Linked DNA regions of Homo sapiens: regions 1 and 2 are each reported to be linked to region 3. The links are microRNA targets in miRTarBase. Many come from high-throughput screens and were not tested one by one. Region 3 holds a microRNA gene; each other region holds the end of a gene's coding sequence.

Evidence for each region. Region 3 holds the annotated microRNA hsa-miR-203b-5p (UAGUGGUCCUAAACAUUUCACA, at 2,348-2,369, shown strand). A microRNA usually pairs through its seed, bases 2 to 8, with sites in the 3' UTR of a target mRNA and lowers its output. Matches are read on the target gene's strand: a 7mer-m8 pairs with bases 2 to 8, a 7mer-A1 pairs with bases 2 to 7 and ends in A, and an 8mer does both.
Region 1: miRTarBase lists UTRN as a target of hsa-miR-203b-5p. Seed matches in the 3' UTR shown: 7mer-m8 at 2,593-2,599 and 7mer-m8 at 2,292-2,298.
Region 2: miRTarBase lists NLGN4X as a target of hsa-miR-203b-5p. Seed matches in the 3' UTR shown: 7mer-m8 at 1,492-1,498.

What each region holds. Positions count from the first base shown.
Region 1 is chr6:144,850,723-144,853,978 of GRCh38, reverse strand. It overlaps UTRN (utrophin), which reads right to left. Exons shown (of 75, transcript NM_007124.3): 75 at 945-2,990. The coding sequence ends at 2,982. Among named protein-coding and RNA genes, the nearest start is that of TRQ-TTG4-1, 330 kb to the left of the region's middle.
Region 2 is chrX:5,890,077-5,893,323 of GRCh38, reverse strand. NLGN4X (neuroligin 4 X-linked) reads left to right here. Exons shown (of 6, transcript NM_181332.3): 6 at 1-3,247. The coding sequence ends at 507. Among named protein-coding and RNA genes, the nearest start is that of LINC03070, 170 kb to the right of the region's middle.
Region 3 is chr14:104,116,581-104,119,836 of GRCh38, reverse strand. It overlaps MIR203B (microRNA 203b), which reads left to right and starts at 2,334; the gene lies at 2,334-2,419. It overlaps MIR203A (microRNA 203a), which reads right to left and starts at 2,432; the gene lies at 2,323-2,432.

The sequences.
Region 1 (3,256 bases), not on the chromosome of region 3:
CTGTCTTGCTGCGTCATCCTATGGTGGAAGGTGACAGGGCAGAGAACATGCAAGAGAAAGTGAGAGAACCCAACGTGCTTTGGTAATAAACCCACTTGAGATAGCAAACACACTTCTGTGATGACATTAATCCATTCATGACCTCTGACCTCATGATCCAATCACTTCTTAAAGGTCCAACCCCTCAACACTATGGAATCGGGGATTAAATTTTCAACACATGAACTGTGGGTGACACATTCAAACCACAGCAGTATGAAAGCAAAACTTGTTCATTTGTTCGCACTTCTATTTTCAGCTACCTAGTCAACAAGTTGCTGGAAATCAAGTGTTTTTTCAGGAATGCTTAATGTCAGCATTACTTAGTGGTACACAGGATGTTTAAAATGTTTGTTCATCAGAATGTATCAGTTTTCTTTATTTTAACAAATTATATTTTAGATGATTTTTCTAGTTCATAGACAGCTTTTAATTTTAGAATAAAGCAACATGATTCTCAACATTGTTTCCCACTGAATGGCTTCAGAAATTGATTAAACCTACTAGAGTGGTTAAAATCCAGTGTACGGATAAAAAGCATACAGTATTTGAGAGCATGAAACTAAAAGTACATTTGAAAGGAACTTAATGTCAACAGCATCTAGTTATTAAAACACTCAACAGGTTTTATGTACACATTTTTACATCCAATATTACTTTTCTCTATCAATAAACCTTCTATCTGGAAAATAAATTGAGAATCATATAATTATATGTATGTGTAAGAGATGGGGAGAGAGAGAGAATGAGAGCAACAGGAGACTGTATTAGTGTGTATGAGAGAAACTGCAGGAAAAAATGTAGATGTATCAGGACACAGGCTATCTCTATATCTTGTTTTCATAAATGTGCATTCAAAACTCACATTCTATCAGTGAATCCAGCTGAAGAATATCAAAGTCATCTTGTGTTAAAATTACTTTTATTCAGGATGAAAAATACAATATGTAACCAGATTAGATGATAGTCTGTGATTAGTTCTTTACCACATATTTCAAAAGAACTACATACTTACTTCCCATTGTTACTGCAATATATTTCTTTTTATTTATTATTACTTAGAAGGTTACAATGTAGTGTTTTACGTAGCTTTTCTTTAATAGCAGATAGAGGACATTTTGCATACAAATACAGGCAGAAAAAAAATTAACACATGACTTTTTAAAGTAAGAACAAGGAAGACACCAAATCTACAACTTGGAGTTGAGAGCTCAGGGAATTGTTTTTTCTTTAAATAGGTGCTTTCTTGGGTATGACATGGCCTGATAAAAGCTCTAGACTTTGCAGACTGCAGCAGCATAAAGCAGTTTCCAATGCAATGGATGAAGATGGATCTGAGGTAGAAAGGTGGTCATGGCTTTCCTTTTTATATAAAACAATTTTCTTCTTTTCAAAATATCTCTGCTGCAAATAGACACCCTTGCCCCCCAACCCACCCAACCTATTCTAAAATAATAGCAATTTCTAACTTTAAGCCTCCTTCTGGCCAGATCCCAGCTAAAGAGAACCCAAAGTTAAAATGTCTTTATGTTTTTATGTCTTTAGGTTTGAATCAAAACATATTATTTTCACCTTTTTTTGGTTCCTCTACATTTGCTAATTAAGTAACATGTTTAAACTGAATCAATTAAATGTTAAATCAGAAGCTAAACCAAAATACATAATTGAATGCACTCAAAAAGATGTAGGTGGAGGTACCATCACCTAAGCATTAATTTCATTCTTCTGTAGAAGCAGTGACATAGACTTTTGATAAACATTCTTTCCAAATATATTGATCAAGTGAAGGGTATAAAAACATCTGATCTTTCACCCGAAAGGTAAAATAAGCCGTGCACTAAATGTGTGTCTGCTTTCAACAAGAAAACAACTAGGAGTTTCAAGAACTATTAAGGACTTGAAAATACAAAACAACAATAAAATTCTCTTTGAAGGGAACCAAAGACAATGATGTGTTCTGGTATCACAATAGGTAAAGGTCTGCTGTGCATGTAATGATGAAAATCAAGACATGGGAACTAGGAAAGGTTGTACTAAATTTTGTTTCTGTGTCAAAATGAAAATATGCTCAAGTGGGCAACCTTTGGTAATATGATCTTTGAGATTATTATAATGTAGTCTTCTTTATCAAATAGATTAAGACATAAAATAAATAATTAATTCCTACTTATATAAAAAGGGAATAAAATGCAGGAAAAATATCCCAAAAGAAATGCCATTTAGGCTTATAGGATTTTTATTACGGTTATCCAAGTGGTCAGCAAAGAAGTAAGTGGGCAACGTCAAATAAAGTTAAACGGCATACACAGGGCTGTAGCTTAAACCATATGTGTGTATATATAAGATATTTGATTGAAATTTATGAATTTATTAATGTGGCCAAATCACGGAAACAAATACATGGATCTATTTGGGATCTAGTTGGTTATATGGCTGATAAACATATGGCTGATAAATTATAAATAACCAAAACATTGTGGTAAAAGAGTCAAAGAAAAAATGAAGTAATTGTGCAAGGTTAATATGAACAGCAGAAGGAATGTAAAAATGTAAAGTGGTCTTCTAATTCTTATGTAAGCTTTGTCATAGTTATTAAAAAGACGGTATCATATTAGAAAGCCCCCACCCACTTTCCCAATGCTGTATACATTATACAAATCCGTGACAAATGTATTACCATTTCCAAATACCTCTCTGTTCATTAATTTACACTTGCATAGAAAGGGAAGAAGAAAACAATAATATATGGTTATTATAAAAACAAAATATCCATTTCTCTTTGGATAGTCAGTGTTTTACTCTTTCAGTAGAACACACAGTCAGCACTCAACATCGTGGGCCAAGGAGCCATGGAGCTTCTGATTTAATGGAACTTGGAATTGGCATTTGCTGAAAAGGGCAACACTGTACGTCAGGAAACATTGGTTGGCCGGATGAATACTTCACATTGCCTATGGGAAGGGAAAATAGCACTGTCAGAAATTTGCACAAAACATTACAGGAAGCAGAGATCTGTCAATTCTTCAAGAAAATAAAAGTGCTTCTTTCAAGAGTCTTAACTCTACTGTGACTTTTGCTTCCTGCAATGAGGTCCCTCCCTCTCATGCTGAAGTTACCTAGTCTGCTTTCTATCACTGCAGCTGATTTAGAGGGAAGTCTGAAAGTCTTTTCTCTTGGCCAGGCTGGAAGCAAAGTTAAAATGGAGAGGACTTCATTT
Region 2 (3,247 bases), not on the chromosome of region 3:
CACTCTAAGGACCCTCACAAAACAGGGCCTGAGGACACAACTGTCCTCATTGAAACCAAACGAGATTATTCCACCGAATTAAGTGTCACCATTGCCGTCGGGGCGTCGCTCCTCTTCCTCAACATCTTAGCTTTTGCGGCGCTGTACTACAAAAAGGACAAGAGGCGCCATGAGACTCACAGGCGCCCCAGTCCCCAGAGAAACACCACAAATGATATCGCTCACATCCAGAACGAAGAGATCATGTCTCTGCAGATGAAGCAGCTGGAACACGATCACGAGTGTGAGTCGCTGCAGGCACACGACACACTGAGGCTCACCTGCCCGCCAGACTACACCCTCACGCTGCGCCGGTCGCCAGATGACATCCCACTTATGACGCCAAACACCATCACCATGATTCCAAACACACTGACGGGGATGCAGCCTTTGCACACTTTTAACACCTTCAGTGGAGGACAAAACAGTACAAATTTACCCCACGGACATTCCACCACTAGAGTATAGCTTTGCCCTATTTCCCTTCCTATCCCTCTGCCCTACCCGCTCAGCAACATAGAAGAGGGAAGGAAAGAGAGAAGGAAAGAGAGAGAGAAAGAAAGTCTCCAGACCAGGAATGTTTTTGTCCCACTGACTTAAGACAAAAATGCAAAAAGGCAGTCATCCCATCCCGGCAGACCCTTATCGTTGGTGTTTTCCAGTATTACAAGATCAACTTCTGACCCTGTGAAATGTGAGAAGTACACATTTCTGTTAAAATAACTGCTTTAAGATCTCTACCACTCCAATCGATGTTTAGTGTGATAGGACATCACCATTTCAAGGCCCCGGGTGTTTCCAACGTCATGGAAGCAGCTGACACTTCTGAAACTCAGCCAAGGACACTTGATATTTTTTAATTACAATGGAAGTTTAAACATTTCTTTCTGTGCCACACAATGGATGGCTCTCCTTAAGTGAAGAAAGAGTCAATGAGATTTTGCCCAGCACATGGAGCTGTAATCCAGAGAGAAGGAAACGTAGAAATTTATTATTAAAAGAATGGACTGTGCAGCGAAATCTGTACGGTTCTGTGCAAAGAGGTGTTTTGCCAGCCTGAACTATATTTAAGAGACTTTGTAAAAAAGAAAAATGTATATAGCTGTGAGTTTAAACAAAAACCACAAACAGACAAACAAGAAAAAAAGCTTTTATTGGTGTTTTCACTTTGAAAGAGCTTTTAGCAAGGTTGTGCTTTTCATTGTGCTCTGTACGTATATAAATATATATATATATACACACACACACACACATTAGTCATATCACCTCTGTTTCCTCCCCAACAAAAGAGGCTTTTCTTCTTAATTACTTGTGGTAAACAAAGACATGGGATTTTCTTACATGAGATTCTCATTTGTAGGAGGATGTGATGTCCCACAGAAGACCCAGACGGTCTGTGTGGCCTATTTCCCCCGTCAGGTTGCACAGGTGCATGCAAGAGCATTCTTAGGAGACCACTGTTTTGAAAAACTTTTGACTTGTACGTGTTAGCCTTCATGAAATTGCAGTACAGAGATGGGTCCCCAAAGTGGAGTGTATTTACAGCTTGTTAAATTAGAGACATGCACACACAAAGAATCAGTAGGGAGAAACAAAAATACAAGTCCCGTTCTGTAGCTCTGGCCCTTTGAATATGTTTAGGAAGAGTTGCTTCCCATTTCAGGGCCCTGCCAAAAAAAGAAGAAAGCTTGCCTTTGGTGGGGCTATGCCCCTTGGAGTAAATACGGCTCTGTGTTCCCTAGCAGCTGCGGGAGGGTTTGGCCGATGAAGTACCTGCTCAGCTTAGCTAATCAGATTGAAGGAAGACATGTGTCTTTCCTTTTTGTTTAAGCACTCGGTCCCTTATTTATCAGTAAGCAGGTTTTTAAAAATCTTTTATATCATTTATGGGATCAAACATATGATTGTCTGAAAACATCACTTTTTGTGGATTTGTGTATCCGGTCACCAAACGGTGAATATTATAGAAGAATGGGGGAAGAAAGGATAGAATATTAAAACTGCTTTGCATGGGTTTTCTGGGAAATTAGGATAACTTCACTGAGAAGACATTGAATGGAAATTATTCACCCATTTTAAATTGGTGACCTAGGGATCAGAGATTTGTCTTTCCAACAGCTTGTCATTTTTTCATTTCTCTTCTCATTTTTCAGGAAAGTTTTGAGTGTTATAAGGTGGAAGGAAACATAGTAGCAATGGATACTTTTTTGAAAAATTATTGCATTACCAAGAAACAGTAGCCAAAGATATTTGAAGATCATGTTCCTCGGCTCCATTGTGGGTTATTCTAGAAATCCAGTCTTAAATCTCTCCGCTAAAGTGGACATTCCCCATAAAAATTGTCCAGCTGCCTGGCTCTTTTGCAATAACAACCTTTGATTACTGAATCCCTACACTCAAACTATAGTGATATATCAGTGTTTGAGAGTGACCTCTAGAAAAAAGAAAAGTGTTTTTAGAAATGCGTACAAGTCACCCCCAAATCCTATTGCTTATCTTGGGTTAAATTTGAGAGTGATTCTCTGTATATAAATATGTGAAATATTATTATCTCAACTTAGCACACGTGAAGCAACATTTCTTTCCTACAGAGAGGTGTCATGGTAAGATTTCATTCCGAATTCATTGTTTCATAGAGCTATGATCAGGCCATTTCTGCAAGCAATGTATGACCCCACCTGAGCAACCACAAATAGGCTCTCTGTGAAACTACAAAGGAAGTTATGTGTGGCATCCATGTTGGTTTCGTCTGTCTGTAATGTGAATTCCAGTATTTGTTTAGTATTTCCAGTTGTCTCCTGCTAGCAATATGTACAGTAACGCGTCAGGCTTGTGACATTTGAATAAGGAAAAACAGAGTTCCTGTTAAGTGAATAACTTTAGCTTTTACAGGGGATTATGATCAAAAGTGATTTTAGTACATCTTAAATGATATCTTATTTCTACATGGAAAGAAGTTATAGAATCTTCATAGAGTTCTATGAGAAAAAATATACTTGCTATCTATAAAAAAGAGAAAAAAGAAAAAAAATGAGAAAAAAGTAAGAAAAAAAAAAATCCTGTCCTAGGCTTTTACTCTTGATCTTCAAAGGCACGCAGGGTTTAATGGTTCCTTGGGTTATTATTTTGCAGTTTTGTTTTTTATTTTGCCTTAAGTAATGATAGAAGATATATATGGCCGGACACATATGTATAAACTTTTCAGCAG
Region 3 (3,256 bases):
GCCTGTCCTCCTGGTGTCCCCAGGGACCAAGTAGGGGCCTGTTGTAAGACCACACCTCATTGCCACCTGAGGCCTTCCATTGGTCCTCCGAGGCCCTGGCTGAAATTCGGCCTCTTCAAGGATCCCCCACTGGCCCTCCCACCACATCAGCTCCAGTGACAGCTTGAGCTCTGCCCTGCTGAGCACTCAGGAAGTGTGCTGCATCATGTCAGGGGAACCTCCAGCGAGCTCCACGTCATCCTACAGAAGGAAGAAACAGGTCCTCCGAGGGGATAAGGGACTTGCCAAGGTCACTTGCTTGTAGGCATAGAGCTGGGGTTTGAATGCACGACAGACTCTCGGTCCCCTGTGCCAGAGGCAGGGAGGGTGGAGGAAGGTGCCTCTGTCTCTTCAATCCCTCAACCCTCCCACCTTGCCCATTCTCCTGGCCAGGTCCCCAGGGCCAGCCTACAGGCTCCAGCGGGAATGAGTGGGAGCCAGCCAAGGGAGCAGTGTTGTGGTGAGTGGGGGGAGTGGGAGCAGGCTGGAGCCCCTGAAAGTGGGGCCCCTGGGAGCCAAGCCCTTTCCCCAGCCTGGCTCCTTGAGGCAGTGCAGCTCAAACCCGAGGGAGGGGGTCTGGCCCAGTGGCCCAGGGGAGGTCACTGCAACGAGAAAGCTGGTGGCAGAGGCTGGGGGCTTCCCTGGAGACCAAAGTGCCAGAGGCAGAGTTGAGGGAGGGTCTTGGGTAAGGACCAGGCCACTGCCCCTCCACCAACCATCCTCATTTCTGCTTCTCTGAGATTAGAAGGAAAAGGCTGGCTTGCTTTCAAGGGAGAAACCACGCTGAGGCCTGGGGGAAAAGGACAAGCACCCCAGGGACACAGCGATGCTTTGGAACATGTTTATTGTCATCAGTCTAAATTGTACAGACGCACACCGGACAGAATGCCTCCAAGCCGCAGAACAGGGACACAGCCGCCATCTCCCACCTGAGCCTCAGCCCCTCTCACGGGGCTGCTGAGGGCTGAGGGCCCATGCAGAGGGCACGGGGGAACGTGCTTGTAAAATGAAATGGCTACAGGGGGCTGCGGTGGTCAGCAGGCAGCAGCTGGGGAAGACACTCCAACCCCTCCGATGCCACAGACCCACTGGGCGCTCCCACGGCCCCAAGCTCTGAAGCCAGATCCTGAGAGGTGGCCACAATGGCATTTGCTGAGCAACAGAGGAGGCACTGGCCAGTGGTGGATGCTCTCCCGGGAACTCCACTCCCCCCACCTGGGTGGCCAGGGGACCTTGCTGTCCTGCTGCTGGCCCTCTTCTGGAACAGCCCTCCACAGTCACCTCCTGTCTCCTCACATCAACCCCCTATGTGTGCAGGTCGGGCTCAGAGAGGGCAGGTGACTGGCCCAAGGCCACCCTAGCAGGCCTCAAACCCAGGCCTGTCTGACCCATCTCCCAGGACTCCCCGCAGCTCTCTAAACACTGGGTGAGGAGGTGGGGACTGGAGGGGGACCCTCCACCCCAGAGGACACAGCAGGCCAGGCAGCACCAGGCAGAAGACCCCGGCCCCTGGCTGGAGGTGGGGACAGATTCGACCCTTTGCTGAGTCCCTCCCAGGGCCGCCCGGGGCTTCACACGCAGATTGACGCGCACACCTCTCCTGTGGGCGCTAGCTACCACGAGGTTCCAGGGAGGCTCCGGCGAAGGCACCTGTCATCATGGGCGCCGCTTCTCCTCTACCTGGGTGTAGTCTGCAAACTTCCTCCCCACCCCCAGTTCCTGTGCCTCGAGGTCCTTCACGAGTTTAGCGCGCACTCGTAGGAGCCGCGCAGCGCTCCCTAAGGCCTCAGTGAGTGGAGACGCTCCGGGGAGCCGGCAGCGGGAACCATCGGCCGCCCAGCAGGGTGCGGCTGCCGGCAGCCTGATGGGCAGCTCCCAGGAAGCCCAGGGCAAGGAGCGCTCCTCAACCCTACGGGCCCACCGCCAGTTCCTCGCTGGGAATTCCACGGAGTTTCGAGGTGCGGGCCCTCGGGGTGCAAGAGGGCGGCGGCGGCGTCTCCAGGCCGGCAGCGCGCCAGGAGCGTGGGCAACCCAGCGCGCCCCCACCCAGCGGTTCCCACAGCACAGCCCGGCCACGCCCGGCCACCTCCCAGCAGCACTTGGCTCTCCGGCCGAGGGTCTTCCCTGGCAGCAGGTGGAGCCAGCCAGGCCCTGGGGACTGCGGGGCGCGGCGCATGGGGCGGCCGACCTGGAGCGCGGAGCCGGTCCGTGGGCTCCCCTGGATTGGTCGCCGGCGCACCCCTGACTGTGACTCTGACTCCAGGCCGCGCGTGGGACGCTCCGTCGCTGTCGCCGCGCCCGCCGGGTCTAGTGGTCCTAAACATTTCACAATTGCGCTACAGAACTGTTGAACTGTTAAGAACCACTGGACCCAGCGCGCGAGTCCCCAACACCGTCGGTTCGCCGAGCTGCGGAGAGAGGAGCCCCCGACGCCCTTGGGACCGCCCGCGTCGCCTGCGGATCCCGGGGACCGGCCCCTGCGCCCAGATCCCCGCTGGTCGCGCACCCCCTGCCCTGCTGCAGCCACCCGGCCCCGACGCCGTACCGGACGCCTTAGACGCCCTCGCCTGGCGCTGGGGGATCCCAGCCGCCAAGCCCAGCCCCGCCGCGTCCTCGCTGGCCCCGGCGTCCCCTCGTCCCGCGGGCCCCGCGTGGCAGGGCGGCTGAGCTCCGAGCGGCGGTGGCCAGCGCGGCGGCGCCTTTTATGCGGCGCAGCCGCCCTTCCCGGCGCCGGAATGTGCCCGCGCCGCGCTGGCCCGACCGGTTTTTCCGGGCGGGGCGGCTCCCGGGCCCATAGGTCCCGCGACTGATCCTCCACGGCCCGGGGACCTGCTCCGCGCGCCCGCGCGGGGGTGGCCCTGACTCAGCGGCCGCCCCGCCCCATCCGGCGCCCCAGCCTCCAGCGCCTGGCCTGGGCGCACCTGGCCTCCCGGGTTCTGGGTCCCCGCCGGGCCACGCCCGAACCGTCTCGTCTGGGCCGGGGGTGCTCGGGCGCACGGAGGGCCCGGGGCTCCACCTTGGCCGGGTCGAGGCCCAGGGTGGCCGGAACAGGTGAGGACCAGCGCCCGACAGGAGCCCAGGGCCGCGCTAGCTCTCCGGTGGGTGTGGGGGCTGGGCTGGACACACCCACCCCAGCCCCTCTCACTTCAAAGGGAACTTCGTGGGAGGGGGAAGGGGAGGGGTAAAGAGAAAGTGAAACTGGAGGGAGGGAGGTTTC